2 separate regions of the Homo sapiens genome follow, and region 1 is linked to region 2. Evidence: fine-mapped expression QTL. A gene starts in region 2. The other region holds a variant in brackets. All regions are shown on one strand. Distances are between the middles of the regions.

Region 1 (10,983 bases), 32 kb after region 2:
TGAGTGCTACTATAGACTGAGTCCTATGACTTCTAGCATGTCACCACATCTGGGGTGGTCTTAGGGACCCCAACACGGCCCTAAAGCCAAAGTGAAAATCACATCTGCCAAAGGTCTAAGTGAAAGTTTGTCCAAATCTGAAAGCTGGCACAGAAGCCTGGACGTGTCCAATGAGGCTTTAGCAGGACTGACAGACAACGATCAGTCACATCTTAGCTACAATCACTCTGAGAGGAGGCAGGCCTGGGGAGTCTGTGAGATTCTGGGTGATGCAGGGGCAGCAAGACAAGGCTCAGAGTGGAAGGAGCATGGGTTGTGCACACACCACCCTGTGGGCACCGTCAGGAGCAGCCATGCTCGGCTACCTGGTCCCCCTCCCCAGAGAAGCAGGTGTCTCCACACTCCAGAGAACTCCTCTCCATCTGGGGGCAGGGGAATGCACTGGAGGAGGCTTGTGAATCTAACACAGCTTTCTCCAGTACGTTTGCCTGAGAGAACCCTTCCTTAAAAACAGAATAATCAGGGATTCTCTTCTGGGGGTGACTGTACAGAAAAAGGCTGTGCAGACTATTCCTAAGCAGCTGCAGGGGAACAGCTGCACACACTGTCCATCTCCACGAGCATCTGGTTCAGGGTGTTCTCCTGCTCACTCTGGCCTCCAAAGTGCCCTTGGCCTCGCTTCCTGCCAATCGCATCAATCTCATCAATGAATAAGATACATGGAGCGTTTTTTTCGGGCCATTGCAAACATGTCATGAACCTGAAACAGGAACCCACCCAGAATCGGTTTTGCTACTGGTAGGAAGACGGGAACGCCAGTTATCCTCCACCCTCTCCTTGGAAACCTCTGACCCATTTTGCCTCAGTGCACCAGCACCTCCCACACATGCCCATGCCCAGGGCCCCACACTAAGCTATTCAAGTTGACCAGTCCTGGTCAAGGCACGGTGCTGAGGCCACCTGCAGCAGGTTCCCATCCACCTACCCTTGCTGGCCCAACGCCAATAAACATTTCCAGGAACTCAGACCCGTTCACAGTGATGAAGGGCACAGTGGCCTCCCCTGCAGTTGCTTTGGCAAGAAGGGTCTTGCCGGTACCAGGAGGACCAGTGAGCATGGCTCCCTGAAACAGAATGGTGACATCGGGCTCTTAACAGGGGAGCAGATGATACACAGGTGAGAGAGCTGCTTAAACTGGTGACTTCTGAGATTGACTAAGAAGAATCCCATTAGGGATGGCTAAGGAGCTGCAGGGCAGGAGGGGGCCAGACTTGCCCACAGCACACTCCGTCCTACCCATGTGCTCCAGGAGAGGCACCCACCATGGCCGCACACACAGCCAGCTCTTCATGATGGATTCTCATGGGGGATGCCACAGGCAGAGGTAATTCTGGGAAATCACTGTACCTCATACCCAAGAACGGGAAACCTAGATGGGCCCTGACCCCACTAACTCTTTCCTGACATCCACAGCAGAGCACGAGGCCTGTGATGTAACACAGAAGCTGACAGAGCCCCCTCTCGCAGGAGCCCCTGCCTGCTGGGAAAGGGGGACCAACACACCACGTGAGGGGCCTTTCTTGGTACCTGACTGCCTCACCCACTCCATCATACAGATTTTCCCCAGCAAATACATGCATATGAAAAAAAAACTGTAATTTGTTCAGCAGCAATAGATATAAATTAAAAAAAAAAAAAGGATGCGATCGCTCACACCTGTAATCTCAGCACTTTGGGAGGCTAAGGCAGGTGGATCACCTGAAGTCAGGAGTTTGAGACCAGCCTGGCCAACATGGTGAAATCCTGTCTCTACTAAAATTACAAAAATTAGCTGGGCGTGGTGATACACAACTGTTAATTCCAGCTTCTCAGGAGGCTGAGGCAGGAGAATAGCTTGAACCCGGGAGGTGGAGGTTGCAGTGAACCAAGATCGCACCACTGCACTCCAGCCTGGGCAACAGAGCAAGACTCTGTCTCCAAAAAAAAAAAGGCCGGGCGCGGTGGCTCACGCTTGTAATCCCAGCACTTTGGGAGGCCGAGGCGGGCGGATCACGAGGTCAGGAGATCGAGACCATCCTGGCTAACACGGTGAAACCCCGTCTCTACTAAAAATACAAAAAAAATTAGCCGGGCGTGATGGTGGGCGCCTGTAGTCCCAGCTACTCGGGAGGCTGAGGCAGGAGAATGGCGTGAACCCGGGAGGTGGAGGTTGCAGTGAGCCGAGATTGCGCCACTGCACTCCCGCCTGGGCCACAGAGCGAGACTCCGTCTCAAAAAAAAAAAAAAAAAAAAATTCTGAAAGGCAAAGAGAACCACCCACTGCAGCACCTGACTATGAGCTGAGGTGAATGGCAGCTGCCAGTGGAGCTCCAACAGGAGCAGAAGGCCCCAGGCTCTGCACATCTGTCACACACACCTGCTTCCCAGCCTCATGCTCATCAAAGTGGAAAACAGGTCTGTCACCTTCTGGCTCCGCCCCAGGTTCCCGGTGCTTGGTATAATCATTATTTGTTGTTTGGAACAAACTGCCCAGTGAATGCCCACCCCATCGGGAGGTGCTGGGGGGTGGGGGTGCAAGGCCACTGCAAGGATCTGGATGTCAGCCTGGTCCAAAGCCCAGAGGTGAGTTAAAAGGGTGTGTGAATCGAGTTTCTGTGAATGCAAATATTTCTGGGAAAAAAAATCCATGGCTTCTCTCAGGCCCCCAAAGAGTCATGACCCCAAAATGGCACGAAGAGATAAACTTGCTCTGTGTGCCCAGCAGCCAGATCCAGCACCCTGACCCACACCACCTGCAACGCGCTGGCTGACTGCCCGCACACACGTAGCCGCCGTCTGGCTGCACACACCTAGCCGCTGGCTGGGTCACGGGCTTACCAAGAGGCAACTACATCTGATCCCAAGCCTGTTCATACAAGTTGTACCTGTTGTTCTATGTAATTAATATTAAATTAATAAAACAGGAGTAAGAACCGACTCTGACCCACAGCCATCTATGTGGAGCTCAGAGTATTACTATGTTTTCCAAAATCAATACCTTTGGAATTTTTGCTCCTAAGTCCTGATACTGCTTGGGATTCTTCAGGAAATTCACAAATTCCATAATTTCCAATTTGATTCTTCGCACCCAGCTACGTCTGCAAATAACACATCGATGTTGCTTTTTAAGATCTTGGCTGCTGTCTCACCAACACCGAAGAGGCCCCCTCCTCGTCTACTGCGCCTGGATCCCATAAGGCCCCTCCTGGCAGCATAGACGAGAATGCCAACCAGGAGAAGGGTGGGCACCAGACTTCACAAGAAAGAGCTGGAAAATCCAAGAGAACTACTTGTCACACTCAGGAGGTCAGAAATAGCACCTTCATGCCAGGCACGGTGAGTCACGTCTGTAATCCCAGCACTTTGGGAAGCCACGGTGAGAGGATCTCTTGAGCCCAGAAGTTCAAGACCAGCCTGGGCAACGTGGCAAGACTCCGTCTCTAAAAAAATTTATAAAAATGACCGGGTGTGGCGGCTCACACCTGTAATCCCAGCACTATGGGAGGCCAAGGCAGGTGGATCACCTGAGGTAAGGAGTTCGAGACCAGCCTAAACAACCTGGTGAAACCCTGTCTCTAGTAAAAATACAAAAATTAGTTGGGCATGGTGGCGTGTGCCTGTAGTTCCAGCTCCTCAGGAGGCTGAGGTAAGAGGATTGCTTGTGCCTGGGAGTTCAAGTCTGCAGTGAGCCATGACTACACAACTACACTCCAGCCTGGATGACAAAGCAAAACTCTGTCTCTTAGAGGAGACCGCTCTAGGACTTTGTGTTGCTACACAAAAGGTAGCAGGGTTTTTTCCTTTTTTTGAGAGAGGGTCTCACTGTCACCCAGGCTGGTGGGCAGTGGCATGATCACAGTAACCTTGAACTCCCAGGCTCAAGAGATTCTCCTGCCTCAACCTCCTGAGTAGCTAGAACCACAGGCATGCATGCCACCACAACAGATAATTTTTTAACTTTTTATAGATACGCAGTCTCACTATGTTGCCCAGCTGGTCTCGAACTCCTAGTCTCAGGTGATCCTCCCTCCTCAGCCTCCCAAAGCACTGGGATTACCTCTGTGAGCCATCACGCCCGGCCCTCGGCCTCTTTTTTTTTTTTTTTTTGAGAAGGAGTCTCACTCTGTCGCCCAGGCTGGAGTGCAGTGGCGAGATCTCGGCTCGCTGCAAGCTCCGCCTCCCAGGTTCACACCATTCTCCTGCCTCAGCCTCCCGAGTAGCTGGGACTACAGGCGCCCGCCACCACGCCCGGCTAATTTTTTGTATTTTTAGTAGAGACGGGGTTTCACCATGTTAGCCAGGATGGTGTCGGTCTCCTGACCTCATGATCCGCCCGCCTTGGCCTCCCAAAGTGCTGGGATTACAGGCGTGAGCCACCGCACCCGGCCTCTTTCTTTTAAATGTGTCAAAGTCCATCAAGCACGAGGCCTCTCCAATTCTGAAGGCTCTAGTCACAGGCATTTCTATCTCCCTGATGGAACCTGTGGCTGGCTTGGTGGGGCAGGGAGAGTGACCACCCACCACCTCCTCCACCTCCTCCACCTCCTCCACCTCCTCCACCTCCTCCACCTCCTCCACCTGGCCAAGCAGCCCTGCTGGAGCTTACACCACAGTGTCTCCCCCGGGAGGTGCCGCCAGCAGACCCAGCAAGGCCTCCTCACATCTAGGGCCAACTGGGTTGTTTTGTCACAGGAAGACACCAAATGTCCGCCTGGTTTATTTTTGTCTTTGCTCTTGCTCTTCCAAGGCTCGAGGCCATCCCTCCTCCAGCGGCTCCACACTCACTTTCAGCCCCACATACAACCAGGCATCCTGGCAACTCAACAAGCAAAGACAGAACCCAAGTCAGCAATAAACAGCACCCAGATGACATCCGGGAGCTCCATCCAGCAGGAGACCACAGGCACTTCGGGCCCTGCCACTAGAATCTGAGAGAGAATCTCCAGAATTCTACCTGCCTCACCTTCTCTCACCCCACTGCAGCCCCTACTCTGTGCTTAAACATACGTCTCAAAGAAACCGCCCACACCACTACGATTCCAATTTTTACACCCTCCTGGCTAAAGCTGGTACTGGATTTGTACTCTCTCTCGGTTCAGTTTC[C/T]AATTCAGGGCAGAAGGGCCGCAGAAGACAGAGCAATGACAAACCCAGGAAGTGAAAACACGAAAACAGGATCCACGCTTAGCAACACTGACTTCTGTGCTGAGTCCTGGGACGCACAGAGTATTTCATCTGGTCTTTGCCCTTGTGTTCATAATTACTTTAAGAACATACGATGCAGCGGAAATCCAAGATAATATGAGAGCCACTGGAAGCTTAGAATGACCAAGTGTCGGCCGGGGGCGGTGGCTCATGCCTGTAATCCCAGCACTTTGGGAGGCCGAGGTGGGCGGATCACGAGGTCAGGATATCGAGACCATCCTTGCTAACACAGTGAAACCCCCTCTCTACTAAAAATACAAAAAATTAGCCGGGCGTGGTGGTGGGCGCCTGTAGTCCCGGCTACTCGGGAGGCTGAGGCAGGAGAATGGTGTGAAGCCAGGAGGTGGAGGTTACAGCAAGCTGAGACTGCGCCACTGCACTCCAGCCTGGGCGACAGAGCGGAAGACTGTCTCAAAAAAAACCAAAAGAACGACCAAGTGTCAGGTACTACATGGGAGCTACAGGGTTGTGTGCAGGGACCCCCAGCACCTGGAAGGATGGGTCAGGGCTGCCCAAAAGGGAGCCTGGGGAAGTCACAGGTGCTCAAGCCCCACCTCTGGACGTTAATTCGACACTTCTGCAGGAGTGGCAGGTAGAAATGATGAAAGTGCATTTTGACAGGGCTCTCGTAGTGATCCTGCTGCATGGCCCAATTGTGGAAGGCTTCCTATGGGACTTCAGGGAATTTCTGCTCCAACAATAACCCAACGACTGGTTTTCTTTTGTAACATTGCCTAGCCAAATATTTCCCTGCTTCAATTCTCATGAAAAAACAGTAAAAAACAAATATATACATATATGTGTGTGGGGGTGTGTGTGTGTGTGTATATATATATATATATATATATATATATATATGTAAAAAAGTATATATATAAAAGTGTATATATAAAAGTATATTATATATATAAAAGTATACATATATAAAAGTATATATATAAAAGTATACATATATAAAAGTATATATATAAAAGTATACATATATAAAAGTATATATATGTAAAAGTATGTATATATAAAAGTATATATATATATATAAAAGTATATATATATTTTTTACTACAGACATTGCTTATTACAGATGCCTCTAATAAGCTTGAAAAACAAATTCCAACACAGCTTAAATGTTGCATTTCTGTTTTGTGTTCACACAGAGGCCCTTCGCCATCCTCCTCACCCATCACTCTCGCTGGTGTAGACTACCACTGCCTGGTTGTGGGGCTCGATCCCCAGCTCCCCTTGAGCAGACTCCAGGTTCCGCTCGAAGGTATCAACGCTGCCAATGTTAAACCACAAGAACTTCTGCAGAGAGCAAGAGCAAGCTTAGGGTGCATCGCCGTGTCCCACACTGAGCCCCACCCTCACACACGCATCTCCCACTGCCTCTTCTCCTAGCCTTAATCTCCACATGGGTGAGGCCTGTGCAGAGGCTAGCTCCAAGGGAAACTAACTAACAGCAGAAGACTCTGGTTTTGGCCCCACGAAATTAGTCTTTAAGTTCTAGATGGAAGTGTAAAATGTCCAACAACTGCTGGGGTGTGCCTTTGTCTCTTTTTCTTTTCTTTTTTTTTTTTTTTGAGACAGTCTCCCTCTGTCACCCGGGCTGAAGTGCAGTGGGATGATCTTGGCTCACTGTAACCTCCACCTCCCGGGTTCAAGCAATTCTCATGCCTCAACCTCCTGAGTAGCTGCGATTACAGGCACAGGCCACCATGTCCGGCTAATTATTGTATTTTTAGTAGAGATGGGGTTTCACCATGTTGGCCAGGCTAGTCTTGAACTCCTGGCCTCAAGTGATCTGTCCGCCTCTGTCTCCCAAAGTGCTGGGATTACAGGCATGAGCCACCACGGCCAGCCATTCCTTTTGGCTTTTTACTCTTTTATCTTTGTCTCCTTCTCTTCTCTCCCCACAATCCTTGATGAGTTGTTCTCAGACACTGCTTGGCAAATCTGAACCCTAGTCAGTCTTATAAGGGCTCCTGTCCTCCTTGGAAGGCTTTGTTATTGATACATGCCAATGAGAAAAAAACACATTAACGAGTAGCTGATGGATACTAAGGGAGTATTTTACTGAAAAAAATAGAAAACTACATTTTTACACGAAATAAACTTATGTCTGCAATACTCAGCCTTAAATTCACCCCTCACTTCAGAAGAGGTCCCAGGGGCAGGAATAACACGCACAGATTGTTTGTTCACGACTTCCAGCCGGTCCACCTGGGAAAAAGAGAAAAATAATCAGCACAGCTAGAGCAGTGAGTATGATATTCAACAGTAAACAGGGGCCTCACCCTCAGACCAGCCCACAGCTAAAGCAATGAGTATCATATTCAACACTAAACCACGGGCCTCATCCTCAGACCAGCCCCACAGTGCAGACCGAGACTCCAACGGTGTCTGAGAAGCTGCATCCACTCTGCTGTGCAGATCCGAGTTTTGTTTTCTGACTGATTTGGACATTTCTAGCCTGGCCTGTGCATGTAATTCAAGAGGAGTTACAATTTGGTACATCTGAGCACCAAAGATTCCAGAGTGACTTAAAAATCTAAAAGGAAGGCCAGGCGCAGTGGCTCAGACCTATAATCCTGGCACTTTGGGAGGCTGAGGAGGGTGGATCACTTGAGGCCAAGAGTTCGAGACTAGCCTGGCCAACGTGGTGAATCCCTGTCTCTACTAAAAATACAAATATTAGCCAGATGTGGTGGGGCGTCCCGGTAATCCCAGCTACTCAAGCGGCTGAGGCAGGGAGAACTGCTTGACCCCGGGAGGCGGAAGTGGCAATGAGCCAAGACTGTACACTGCACTCCAACCTGGGCAACAGAGTGAGACTCCATCTGAAAAAAAAAATCTAAAAGGCATAGAGGTCTCAGACTGACAATACAGCAAAGTCTTCCGGAACTCATCCAGAAACATTTCGCCCACACAGCTGCAGATACCACAAGAAAATGGTGCCACCAAGAATGAAAATGCAACCCCAAAGGCCTCCACGAAGCCACCCAGCGGCGAACACAGCCCGACAGCCGGTGCGCAGCAAAAACACAACTTGAGAGTGCGGCCATTTCCTTAGGTATCATGACAACAGCGTTGCTTTCTCCTCTCCACAGAATCTGAAACCACTATAACCCTACTTTTCTTGACTACTCAGGGTCATGTGACCAACACGAACGTGTTTATGACAGGGGCCTCTTGACCATAACGCAACCGCATCACGGTCAGCGTGTCAGATACCTGGAGAGGACCTCACAGAAGCTCTGGGATCTGTCCAGAACCCACACACCAGCAGGCATCTTGCTCCTCACAGCAGCAGCTGTGAGTGAAGACCAACAGCAGAGATGGGCTGCAGCAGCTCTCCCTTCCTCCCATAAGGAGTCATCAGGGACCTCTCTGAAGACAGGTGTGTGCCCTGTGGCCAGACAAAAAGGCCTTGGGTGGTGGTTCACAACTGTAATCATAGCACTTCAGGAGGACAAAGTGGGAGCATCACTTGAGCCCAGGAGTCTGAGACTAGCCTGGGCAACATAAGGAGACACTGTCTCTAAAAAAAAAAGTGCGGGCTGGGCACAGTGGCTCACGCCTGTAATCCTGGCACTTTGGGAGGCCAAGGTGGGAGGATTGCCTGAGCTCAGGAATTCGAGACCAGCCTGGGCAATACAGTGAAACCCTGTCTCTACTAAAATACAAAAAACTAGCAACCTCCACCTCCCATGGAGGTGTAGTGGCCAGAACCTGTAATCCCAGCTACTCAGGAGGCTGAGGCAGGAGAATCACTTGAACCAGGGAGGTGGAGGTTGCAGTGAATACAGATCGTGCCACTGTACTCCAGCCAGGGCGACACAGCGAGACTCCATGTCGGAAAAAAAAAATTACATTTTTTACAGTCCCAGATACTCAGAAGGCTGAGGTGGGAGGCTGGCTTGGAACCAGAAGGTCAAGACTTCACACCACTGCACTCCAGCCTGGGTGACAGAGCAAGACCCTGTCTCAAAAAAATTAATTAATTAATTAATTAAAAAAAAAAAAAAGGCCTTAGCCACAAACCCTGGTGGGAAAACAGGACTTTCCTACAGAAAGAAGTTCAGATCTTAACACTGTATCAGTTAACAAACGTCCTTCTGAGGGCAACTGAGAAGCACGGCACCTGCTCTCATGTAACTTTATACTAAACCCTGAGCAGTGCTTCACCAGCCTTCAGCAACCCGACAGACCAGGCCCAGTGAAGGACAGGCGGAGGCTTGCTGGTTACTAAACCCTGAGCAGTGCTTCACCGGCCTTCAGCAACCCGACAGACCAGGCCCAGTGAAGGACAGGCGGAGGCTTGCTGGTGCCACATGCCCCTGTGCACAGACACAAAGCCCCAGCCGCTGTCCAGGGTCAGCCAGCAAAGGACAGGGGTGCAGGAGGGGACACGGGTACACTAGGGGAAACAAAAGATCTGCATTAGGTATGTAATTGATACTTGATGATAAACAGACACAATCAGACAATCAGAACTTACTCACAGAAGCTGAAGCTAAAAACAAAAAGCCAAGATGTTAAGGAAGCTTCCACCTTGCAAGAAAATGGGCTTATTAACCTTCTGTTGGGGAAAGTAAAACTGTGTCTCATCTAAAAAATGAGCTTCCTAACCTTCTGTTGGGCTGGCTACTGGGAAAAGTAAACCTGTGTCTCATCTATGGCCTGAGGGTGGGACTGCCCAGGACATCTACCACACAACGGGTTTTCAACCCAGGCCTCAGAGCTCACAGCTTCTTAAGGGCATCGCAGACCACGTGCACCACTACAGCGGCCTCCTTCCCAGGTAGGTAAACTATAAATTCCTCTCACCAGACCTCTGGCCAGGTAATACTGTACAAAGTGCTTCCACGTGATTTCTCTTCCAGGATCTCGAAAATAGAGGTAGAAAAATCCCATGGCAACGCCTGCCCCCAAAAGGGCCAGACTGCGGAAATCCTCGTCATCCCAGGGGAAGTCCCCCCTGTGGAAAAAAGAAAACACATTTTCCAGTTAAATGAAGGTAGTTTCTTTATGAAAATAGCTATTTCCTTTTTCAGATGTTATTAGGAAAGTTTTGCAACCCCCCCCCACCGACCGTACACAATGTAGCCTCAGTTCCTCTCATGAGGAAAGATCTTTACGTGGTGTATGACACACACTGAAAGCCGCAGCTCAGCAGATGCCTCAGGAGAAGCAGAAAGTCCACAGAGAGCGCTGTGTTTGAGCCACTGTTGCTAGGGTTCTCTCTTATGGGGGTCTGTTAAAATCCAGACAGAGGCCAGGCGTGGTGACTCAGCTCTGTAGTCCCAGCACTAAAGGAGGCCAAGGTGAGAGGACTGCTTGAGCCCAGGAGTTCGAGACCAGCCTGGGCAACGGTGGGTGACCCCATGTCCACAAAAAATTTAAAAAAAAATTAGCCAGGAGTGGTGGTGCAAGCCTGTGGTCTCAGCTGCTCTAGAGGCTGAGGTGGGAGAATCATCTGAGCCTGGGAAGTCAAGGCTACAGTAAGCAGTGATCGTATCACTGCACTCCAGCCTGGATGACACAGTGAGACCCTATCTCAAAAATAATAATAATAATAAAATCCAGATAGAAATCTCAGCACATTTTTATTTTTTTTTAATTTTTTTTTTTTTGGAGACAAGGTCTTACTTGGTCACCCAGGCTGGAGTGCAGTCGCACGATCATGGTTTACTGCAGCCTCAACCTCTCGGGCTCAAGCAATCCTGAGTACCTGGGACCAGAGGT
Region 2 (10,983 bases):
AAAGTGATGGGATTACAGGCGTGAGCCACCGCGCCCAGACTCCTGGCCTAGTTTGGTAGTTTCTTTCATAGTCGGTTTTCAGAAGACCCTTCCTGGGTCAGAAAACCCATCTACTTAAATTTAATTCGTAATGTACTGCTCTCTTTTTAATCCCTCCACTCCAAGAAGGCTACCTCATCACAAAGCCCTGAAGGCAGTGGAGGAAGGTTCAGCATTACTTAGCATTTGGGACCTTCACAGCCAGCTGCAGGGACTTGGTGGGGCTCCCAGAGCTTTCCTCCCCCCACCAGCTGAAACCCACCCTGCCACACCTGCCCAGAAATTGAGTTACTGACAATTCCTGTACCACAAAGGGAGAGCCCTTTACAAGAGAAAGACAGACATGGAGCTGATGAGGCCACGAGCTCCGCCTTCCTCTTCTCGGTCTGGGCCTGACTCCTGCCAGGCTTTCCAAGGGAACAGTGGTTCCTGTATCCCAAGGTTGTGCCCTGGGCACTCCAAGGGCACTGGACCTGTCCGGGCCTCCTTGGTGTAGAGGGATCTCTAGCCACTCTGGTGTGCCCCAGGCTCTCCATCCGGGAGACCAAAGGTCTTAGGGTAATTCCTGCCTCCGGCTCTATTCCATGGGGACCCTGGTGCTCTGCAAAGCCTCGTGAGCTGAAACCCTAGGTCCCAGGGATCCAACAGACCGAGTCTGCCATTCCAGGATGAGAGTCCCCTTGACGCATGTTCACTCTTCTGGGGACCGTGCGCCGCCGACCCCGGGCCCTGGGCGTTCTATGACCACCCCTGTGAGCACAGGGCTCTGGACAGCCCAGGTCTCAGTCCCGAGTGCTGCCAGGCCCCGGGGCCGGGAGCATCCTGAGTTTGCCCCACGGAGACCCCCACAAGAGCACCGAGCTCTCAATTCCAGAAACCCAGCGCTCCAGGCCTCCCATTCCCAGGGTCTCCGTGTACCGAGGCCTCCCTGCCCCGAGGTCTCCGGGCCCCTGCCGAGGACCCCAGCCCCGCTCCCGCCCCTGCTCACCATGACGCCAGCGGACAGGCCCAGCGGCGACTCCGGGACCAGGGCGCCCGCCCCCGGAAGCCACGCCGTTTCCCGGCAACCGCTGGGCGATGCCGCGATAAGTCACAAGATCCTCGCGAGACTCCGCCGGGCAGCGGCCCTGCCAAAGGCGGGAGTGCGTCCCTAGAGACGGGCGTCCGGAAGGAACCCGGTTGTGAACGTTGGGAAAATGTCGCCGGCAGCCCAGAAGCCTTTCGCTGCAGGGCATGTTTTGCTTATTGCTGGAACCTAAGCTCCACGAGGGGGGAACCCTTCACTTCTATCCTTCAGCGCCTAGAACAGCACACAGCACGTGCTCAGTAAAGACGTGCTGATGAAGGACCATTGAAGGAATGATCAATCAGCCACCCAAGCCTCTGAAACTTTCCCCAAATGAGATTCAAATCTGGGCAAACACTCTATCCCCTGGGCCTCACTCACCCCACCCGCCCACCTTTGAAGGGCCCTCCCAGCTGCTGCGCTGGTGGGTTTACACACACCTCAAAAACGCAGAAATCGGAAAGAAAAATACGTTCCAGTTTAGTTCCAAATGTTTGAAATCAGTAAGTATTCCTTTCACAAAAATAAACTGCTCTTCCTGAAGAGGCCTCCTCCCCACTCCTCACGGATGAAAAGAAACCAGAGGCTTCCCGACAGGCCCTGCAGAAAACAAACAGCTGCCACTTTCCTTTTCTAACTAATCTCTTGTTCTGAAAACTGCTAGCCATTTTACAATTTCTAAAATGAATCTGCCATCCGTGAAACCACCCTGTTACCTACATACAACCATCTATGTCACCCAGAAAGCTGAGTTTGTCATAAACAGGTGCTTTTTTTTTTTTTTTTTTTTGGAGACAGGGTCTCCTTCTGTCGCCTAGGCTGTGATCACAACTCACTGCAGCCTCGACCTCCTGGGCTCAAGCAATCCTCCCACCTCAGCCTCCTGAGAAGCCAGGACTACAGGTGTGAGACACCATACCCAGCTTTTTTTTTTAAGTTTTTAATAGAGACGGGGTCTTGCTTTATTGCCCAGAGTGGTCTCAAACTCCTGGCCTCAAGTGATCCTCCTGCCTCGGCCTCCCAAAGTGCTGGGAGCACGTGAGCCCCACGCCCAGCCCTAAGCTCTCATCTTTAACATCTTCTTAAAAAGTGGTCATCTACTTGGGAGGTTGAGGTGGGAGAATCGTTTGAGCCCTGGAGGTGGAGGTTGCAGTGAGCCAAGATCACACCACTTCACTCCAGCCTAGGTAACAGAATGAGACCTGAGACCCTGTCTCAAAAAAAAAAAGAAAAGGTCTTGTAGCAGATCTTGTTCTCCCATGTGTCTGGGGATGAAGAGTACAGAATCCATGCTCGTAGAAAGTTGTGCTGGGGGCAAAGTGTGAGAAATGAAAGAAGGCCTGGTGGACCTAGGTCTTCCTGTCCAGCTGGGGGAGGAAGTTGCCACATGAGCTGGGTTTGCTCAGGCCTCAGGCACCCACACAGTGGTGGGAATCTGAGAACCACTGTGATGAGAGACTTCCTGTTTGCCCACCTAAGTCCTGATTGTTCTTGGAGAGGAGCAGCCAGTTGGAAGAACTGCATTGGCTCAGCTTGCACAAAGCAGTGATTTATTTATAGTAAGCCCTGAGGCCTCTGTGAAGTCTGGCTGGTCACTGTGCCTGGGCAACCAGGAGCCAGCATCACTGTGCCAGACTCCCTTGGCCTGAGAGGGGCCTCCTCCCCCTGGGACAGGGTGGTCAGACAGTGACGCTGGAGAGCACAGTGGGGGTAATTATTATAATTTAACACTTACTTCACAAAACCAATATGCTAGCAGCTTCATGCTGATTGGCTTTTTGCTTCAGAAGTCTGGATGAGTGTCCTGAATTAAATAGCTGTATTAACAATAATTCCTTTCAGCAAAAAGGGCAAGAATAGGAGGGTTAGCTCAGGATAGCCTAGACAGGGTACTCATTTTTCACAAGCTAAGAGCAATCCTGGTCTGTCGGTGTGGGCTGCAGAGATGAATCATTCAGGGAGCCCTGAATTGCGGCTCCCTGGGATCCCGACAGGGCCCACTGCGACCTGTTCTTTTCATATTGAATTCGAGTTCAGATTTTTAGAAAAGAGCCTTTTCTTCACATATGTGGCTTAAGATACTTTCATTCAGTGTCAAGCTGTGCAGCTCAGAAACCCAGATAAATGGCATCTGAGTTTCCTGCAAAATCCCAGAGCAAATGTTAATACAAACAAACCGACTGCCCTCTGTCTGATGTCTGATGCTTCCTGCCACCCACTATCCACCAGGTAAACCGCCTCAGGCCACGGCATCAACTCAGTGAAGGCCTGGATGCTGGGTTAACAAGAGTGTTTATGAAGACTAGACTTTTTCTTTTCTTTTCTTTTCTTTTTTTTTTTTGAGACATACAATCATAGCTCACGGCAGCCTTGGACTCCTGAGCTCAAGCTGTGCTCCCACCTCAGCCTCCCAAAGGGCTGGGATTACAGGCATGAGTCAATGCTCCTGCAAACGGACTTTCTTTGAGAGATAAATATTGAAGTACTTACAAATGCAATGATCTAATGTGTATATAATTTGCTTCAAAATGACCCAGCAGTGGAGGGAAGTGAATGAGGACAGAGAAGCAGTGGCCCAGGCCAGGAGCTGGCAATCGCTGAATCTGGGCGATAGGGACATGGGGGTCAGTTTCATCGAAACTGCCTTGGCGCTCTCTGCAGCCCGGGCCCGCCGCCCTCTCCTTACCTCCCATCCCCCATCCCGCCCCTTCCAGCCTCCCAAGCACACGCCCTCGCCCCCACCCGCCCCCCGCGTTAATTCGCGCCATCCAGGGCGCTCTGTGAGTCTGTCATTACCCAGCGCGAGTCAGGCCCCTCCTGTGCCCCTCGCCAGCCCCGAGGGGCGCCCGCACACAGTCGGCGCCCCACACGCAAGTACCTGGAAGAGAACAAGAGGACGCCAGCGGGCGCGGCCGCCAAGTGAGTGCGCAGGAGCCCCGGACGCCCGGCCGGGGTCGGGAGGGCGCAGCCAGGTCCCGGTGGTGTCCGCGGCGGGGCGCGGCCCGCGAGGGAAGGGTCGGCGGGGGAGGGGTCCGCTGGGCCAGGGGCCAGCAGGGGGCGCGCGCGGGCCGGGGCGGGGCCGCACCTGTCCTGCGGCTGGGGGGGCGCCGGGAGGGGGCCGGGGCCCGGGAGCAGCTGCGCGCCCCGCCCCGCCCCGCGGGCTCCTCCCTGCCGCCGCGGCCCCCCGGTTGCTGCCCCGATGCGCTGCGCCCGGAGCCGGGGCCGAGTCGCTGCCGCAGCTGTTGGGGCGCCCGGGCCAGGCGACGCCGCCGTCGCCCGTGCCCCTCCCAGACCGCACCGGCCGCATGGAGCCCCCGGAGGGCGCCGGCACCGGAGGTGAGTTCAGCCCCAGCCCCCGAGACCCCCGCGCAGCGCTTCCCCGCAGCGAGCCGCAGCCCCTCCCCCCAGGGCTCACCCTTCGCCGCTCCCGGGAGTCGCGAAGACCCCTTTGGCAGCTCGGGGTCGTCCGGCGGGCCAGGGGCACCTCCCGGGCGCGGTCCCCGCGCGGGGCTGGGGGCACACGGACCGAGTCTCCGCCCCCTTGTTCTCTGCGCTCCCGGCCCGGGAAGCCGTGCCCGGCACGCTCCTTGGTGGGTGGCCCGGAGTTTCGTCCTGAGCCCCCTCCCAGCCAAGCCAGCCGGTGACCCGGGGAGCGGGGGAGGGGGGTTCCGGGGCTGGAGTTTGGGGTCCCTGTCGGTGGGGCGTGAGGGCGACGCTGGCCGCTTGCAAGCGCGTCCGCTTTGTTCGCCCAGCCGCGAGTCCCGGGGGGCGAGGGCCGTAGACTCGCGGGCAGGGATCCTGCCAGGGGCGAGGGGCTGAGATGGGTCTTGGGGATGTGGGGCATGCACGGGCGCGGCCTGCCGGGGACTCCAGAGCTGCAAGGGTGGCTGGTCCGGGAGTGGCCCAGGCGCACGCTCATCGGGGAGGGTAGGTGCGCGTGGAGCGCTCCCTGCCCTGATGGTGGAGGCCCTACTGCAGGACCTTGGAGTCGGTAACGGGAAGAAAGCTCTCAGAACCTCCCCCCTTCCCGATCAGAGACTTTTCCAAAAGGGCTTTCGGGGTTCCATTTGCCTAGGTAGGAACTTGGATGCAAACTGCAGACTCCTCCACCTGCCCAGCCAAGCCCACCACCTCCTGGTTTCCTAGAGCTCCCATTCCAGGGAGCCAGCAGGTGCCTGAGGGCACAGGCAGGCCAGCCTGCCGCTCTGGAACTACATGGGAACCTCTCAGTCCCCCAGCCGCACACAGTGGCATCCTCTGGAGCCCGAAGGGCTGTCCCCGGGAGGAGCAGGTCCACCCACCCTGTGTATCTGCAGTCCAAGGTATAGGGACAAATGCCCCAGGGCTGGTGGGTTTGGGTTTTGATTTGTCATTTGTGGGAGGGACCAGAGCTCTTTCTTAACACTGATAGTCCCAGGCTCCTGGGTATTCCCAGTAGCAGCTTTGTGGACATAGGAAGCCTGGAGGTTGGGAGTGAGGGCTTGGGGGTCTCCGAGCTGTTTCCAGCTGTGAACTGTGGGCAGTCAGGCCCCTGTGAGCCTCAATTTCCATTTCTGTCAGTGGAGACAGTTCTGCTTCCCCTGCAGGGCTGTGGGAGCCCAAGGCATTTGGGAGTGGAGGTTAATATGTTTTCCCTCCTCCTTTGGGAAAAAAGGAGGACTTCCCAGCAGCTTAAAAGGCAGAGAAAGCAGGTTCAGTTTCTGAGCCCATCAGTCACTGGCTGGGGGCTTCAGACACCTGACTCAATCAGTGCACAGGTATTTACCTACAGGTCGCAGCTCTGTGCAGTACCCTGCCTGGGGTGGGGAGTTAGTGGGAAGACAGGGCCCTGTCCTCTGAGGGCTCACGCTCTTGACACCAACTCCTGTTTCCTTGTCTGCAAAGTGGCCAGTGATGCCTACTTTGTGGAACCTCATGAGATCACACATTGGTGACTCTGTCATTACTTATCACTTACTTTTGAAAACCTTACAAAAGTAGAGAGAACGGCGGGACAAAGGCCCATGTGTGACATCCCAGCCCCCAGGCCCACAGCCTCCTCTCCAGACTACCACCAACCTCCCTTCATTAGTGGTTTGAACCAAATCTAGACATATTATTTCACTGATAAATAATTCAGAAATATCTGTAAAATATGATTTTTTTTTTTTTTGAGACGGAGTCTCGCTCTGTTGCCCAGGCCGGAGTGCAGTGGCGCGATCTCGGCTCACTGCAACCTCCACCTCCCGGGTTCACGCCATTCTCCTGCCTCAGCCTCCCCAGTGGCTGGGACTACAGGCGCCCGCCACCACACCTGGCTGATTTTTTGTACTTTTAGTAGAGACGGGGTTTCACTGTGTTAGCCAGGATGATCTCGATCTCCTGACCTCATGACCCACCCGCCTCGGCCTCCCAAAGTGCTGGGATTACAGGCGTCAGCCACCATGCCCGGCAAAATAGGATTTTTATAAAGCATTATTAAAACACTATTTTTGCAACTAAAGGAATTAATGATTTCTTAATATGAAATGTACAGAACACGGAGGTGCACGTGTGCACAGGAATGTGACCTGTGCCCTCTCTGAGGGCCCCACCTGGAAGCCAGGGCTGTAACCCACCCCAACTCAGTCTGCCCAAGGGTCCACAGGGACAGAGGGATCCTCAGGAGGCTGAGAGTCTAGACACGGCCACTCCAGCATCCCTGAAATACTTTGGGGGTCCAAATCCAGAGAGGAAGGTGCTGGGGGATGGGGGGCAGGTGGCCCCTGCCTCTGCGACCATCTCTCCTTCCAGCCATTTAGTTTTATGATATTCATTCATTCACTTCATTAGCTCATCCGTCCATACAGTGGTGTGTGCCAAGTGCCTCCTCGATGCTCTGGACGGGGCCCTGGGCACACAACAGGGAACAGGATTTGGGCCAAGTTTCCCAGTCGAGAATGTGCTGGAAAATAGGTCAGCAGCAGAGCACAGGGCATCAGCAATCAGCCCTCAGGGAAGCCTGGGGGGCCGGGCTGAGGCACCCCAACTCCTGGCTCCCTCGCTGAGGTGCTCCTTCAGTGCCCACTCATCAGCGAGGGCACCAGCAGCCCCTGCAGGGGGGTTGGGTCCCCCTTGATAGGGGCTGTGCTGGGGTAAGGACCAGAACATTGCTGTGTCCCCACACTCTGGGGTCCTTCCTGGGACATCAGAAACACCTGCTTGCCTCTGCCCTGGCCCTGGAGACCTTGGGGGCTGCCAGCACCCGCCCCCATGCCTGCCTGGCATTGAGCCTCTGGTTCCCACCCTGGGAAAAGCAGCAGGTCTCGCCCGTGAGGAATTTTCTTCTTCCTACAAGCTTGTTGAGAGGGTGTCAGACAGGCCTGGGTGATTCCTAGCGCAGTCCCTCACTAACCGTGGGCTAGTTGATTCACCCTCATTTGTTTACTGCGCACCTACTGTGCGCTAGGTCCCAGGAATGCAGCCATGAACTAGATACAAGCCGCTTAGAGCTGATGCTTCTCGCTCTACCCAGTCCCAGCCTGCTCTGGGGCTGTGCCTGGGGGTCTGGCGTGTGGCCGACTCACAGTGTATGTGAGTCTCTGTCATTTCCTCCCGGCTTTGCCTATCAGTTCCAGCCAAGATCAACCTTTGTTTCCATTGAGGATTGTTTTTAAATTGAGATATTATTCACATATAAAGTTCACCCTTTTAAAGTGTACAACTCACTGTTTCAGTATATTCACAAAATTGTGCAGTCACCACCACTATCTAATTTTATAATATCTTCATTACCCCCCCAGAAAGAAACCCATACCCGTTCTCCCCTTCTCCACTGCCCACCCCCCAGCCTCTGACGATCACTGATGGAATGTCTACGCGCTTGCCTATTCTGGACATTTCCTAGGAACGGCGTCACACAGCATTTGTCCTTTTGGGCCTGGCTTCCTTCACTCGAATGAGGTGATCAGGCTCATGCATGTGATATCCGGTGTCAGTACCGCCGTCCTTCTTGGGTTGAATCTCACTCCATGGTAGGCACAGACCACATTCTGTTTATCCATTGATCCACTGAGGACATTGGATTATTTCCACTTTTGGCTACTGTGAATCACGCTATGAACATGCATGTGCAGCTGACTCTTGAACAACGTTAAGTGTTAGGGGTGCCCACCTCCCTCAAAGTCAGAAATCCACATAGAACTTTTCACTCCCCAAAAACTTAACTGCTAATAGCCTACTGTTGACCAGAACTTTACTGATATGGTCAACGAACACATATCTGTATGCTGCATGTATTACACAGTAGGCTCAGTCATTTGAGGACCCACGAGCATGCCTTATAGCAGCTGCACGCTCTTCATGCCAAGATCCATCGTGCCCCTCCTGGGGGCTCAGGTCTTGTCCCTGGTATCACATTCTTCTGGCCAAAAAATTCGTGTCCTGATGGCAGAAGCTGCATCTTCCAAATTTTCCTTCCCCAAAGCCCCAACACAGACCACGGCACCAGACTTTACAGAATAAAGACCAGGCCAAAGGGAGATGGGGAAGGACCAGACTAGACACCTGGTGGCTTCAAATGCTTACAGGACTGGATCTCATCAACGCTGACACCATCAGCTACAGATGTGTTGCTGTCTCAAGAATGTGGAAATAAGAAAAGATGCTTTTTTTTTTTTTTTTGAAACAAGAGTCTCGTTCTGTCGCCCAGGCTGGAGTGCAGTGGCATGATCTCTGCTCACTGCAAACTCCACCTCCTAGGTTCAAGCGAGTCTCCTGCCTCAGCCTCCTGAGTAGCTGGGACTACAGGCACGTACCACCACACCGGCTAATTTTTGTATTTTTAGTAGAGACGGGGTTTCGCCATGTTGGCCCAGACTGGTCTCGAACTCCTGGCCTCAAGTGATCCGCCCGCCTTGGCCTCCCAAAGTGCTGGGATTACAGGCGTGAGCCACCGCGCCCGGCCGAAAGGATACTTCTTAAGAGTCAACTATGATATTCATTCCACACAGGGCTGCTGTGAAGCTTCCACAGGGCTAGAGCTTTGTCCCAGAAGCTGTCTGTAGCCCCTTGGGACCCCAGGATCTATAATGAGGACTGCTGGCATTCGCATGCCCCCTCTCCAGTGCAAGATGGGGAAGGGGATTGCTGTTTGGCTGAGGTCCTGCTTGGGACCTCCATCTCAGCACAAGCAGAGGGTGCCTGCAGACTTACCTCCCTCTGGACTGTGCCCTTGCTGGCCTCGTCGTAAAAATGCAGGTATTGGCCCGGCACGGTGGCTCACACCTATAATCCCAGCACTTTGGGAGGCCAAGGCGGGCGGATCATGAGGTCAGGAGTTCAAGACCAGCCTGGCCAACAGGGAGAAACCCCATCTCTACTAAAGATACAAAAATTAGCCAGGCATGGTGGCGCACGCCTGTAATCCCAGCTACTTGGGAGGCTGAGGCAAGAGGATCCCTTGAACCCAGGAGGTGGAGTTTGCAGTGAGCAGAGATCGCGCCATTGCCCTCCAGCCTGGTGACAGAGCGAGACTCCATCTCAAAAAAAAAATAATAATAATAATAATTTAAAAATTCAGGTAGATGCTGTCCCACTCCATTCAAAACCCTTCAACGGCTTCTCTCAGCTTACTCAGTATAGAAACCAAAGTCCTGACGATCTCCACACGACCTGCACACACCACCCCTGCCCTGCCTCACAGCCCCCAGCTGTCCTCAAATGCACTCTGCTCAGGCCTTTATGCATGTCCCCCCCCGCCCCACCCAGTATCACACGGCTCCCTCCCACCTCCAGGCTCCTCCTCCAAGTTTGGTAGAGCACCCTCCCCAGATGCCCCCTAAAATGGGAGCACAGCCCCGCACTGCTCACTGGCACTGGCCGTCCCTCAGAAGGGCAGGAATCATCTATTTTGTCTATGCCATGTCCCCAGAACAGAGGGTGATTCGGAAGTCTTGGTTGGGTGAATGAATGAATCAGAGCCTTCGTCTAGATGAGGGGCCCCGCCCAGTGAGAGGGGGACTACAAGGGGAGACGCCACCTCTGTCCCACCTTCCTTCAGAGATCCACGTCCCCCCAGGTCAGGACCCAGGGAACCTAAGCCAGCAAGTGGGGACTTCCTGCTCCCTCTGCTGGGCCCTGAACCGGGATCCCTGGTTCCCATCTCCACGCCATGATCAGGAACAGGCTGACAGGTGATGGCTGAGAGCTCCAGCTGCGTCCCTGGCCAGCCCTGTGCTGCATGCTGGGGACAGACGCTGAGCTGCTCTGTGCCTCAGCTTCCTCCTCTCAAGTACAAAGCTCAGAGTCTTCCCCATGTAGCTGGGAGTTAGGGTGAGGTGAGAATGGAGTTAGTCAATAAACACAGAATGCTGGGACTGTACTAGAAAACCATAAGCCACTGTCTTTTTTTTTTTTTTTTTTTTTAAGGCAAGGTTTCGCTCTGTTGCTCAAGCTGGATGGCACGATCACAGCTCACTGCATTCTTGACTTCCTGGGTTTCAGGCGGACCTCCTGCCTCAGCTTCCCGAGTAGCTGCCACACAGGTGTGCACCACCACACCTAGCTGTCATTATTAACACAGAACCACCTGCCCCACCTGCCTCTGAGGGTGCTGTCCCCAGAGATTCTCTGCAGAACTACTCTGGCCCCAGGTTTCCTTGATATTAGGGGGCTGCCAGAGAGGAGGGGGTGGGAGGCCAGGGTGTATGATCGCTTGAACCCAGGAGTTCGAGACCAGCCTGGGCAACATGGCAAGACCCTGTCTCTACCAAAAAAATTTTAATTAGCCAGGAGTGGTGGTCCCAGCTACTCAGGAGGCTGAAGTGGGAGGATCGCTTGAGCCCAAGAGGTTGAGGCTGCAGTGAGCTATGGTTTTACCACTGCACTCCAGCCTGGGCAACAGTGAGACCTTGTCTCTT

Evidence for each region.
Region 1: its variant is fine-mapped to the expression of DBNDD1 in whole blood (TOPMed, PIP above 0.99).

What each region holds. Positions count from the first base shown.
Region 1 is chr16:89,981,006-89,991,988 of GRCh38, reverse strand. It overlaps the pseudogene AFG3L1P. Among named protein-coding and RNA genes, the nearest start is that of DBNDD1, 33 kb to the left of the region's middle. RefSeq lists a silencer at 3,439-3,613. The variant C/T (reference allele first, on the strand shown) is at 5,143.
Region 2 is chr16:90,012,769-90,023,751 of GRCh38, reverse strand. It overlaps DBNDD1 (dysbindin domain containing 1), which reads left to right and starts at 4,296. Exons shown (of 4, transcript NM_001042610.3): 1 at 4,296-4,441. The coding sequence starts at 4,411. It overlaps DRC4 (dynein regulatory complex subunit 4), which reads right to left and starts at 1,072. Exons shown (of 11, transcript NM_001481.3): 1 at 1,028-1,072. The coding sequence starts at 1,030. RefSeq lists silencers at 2,997-3,291, 4,038-4,177.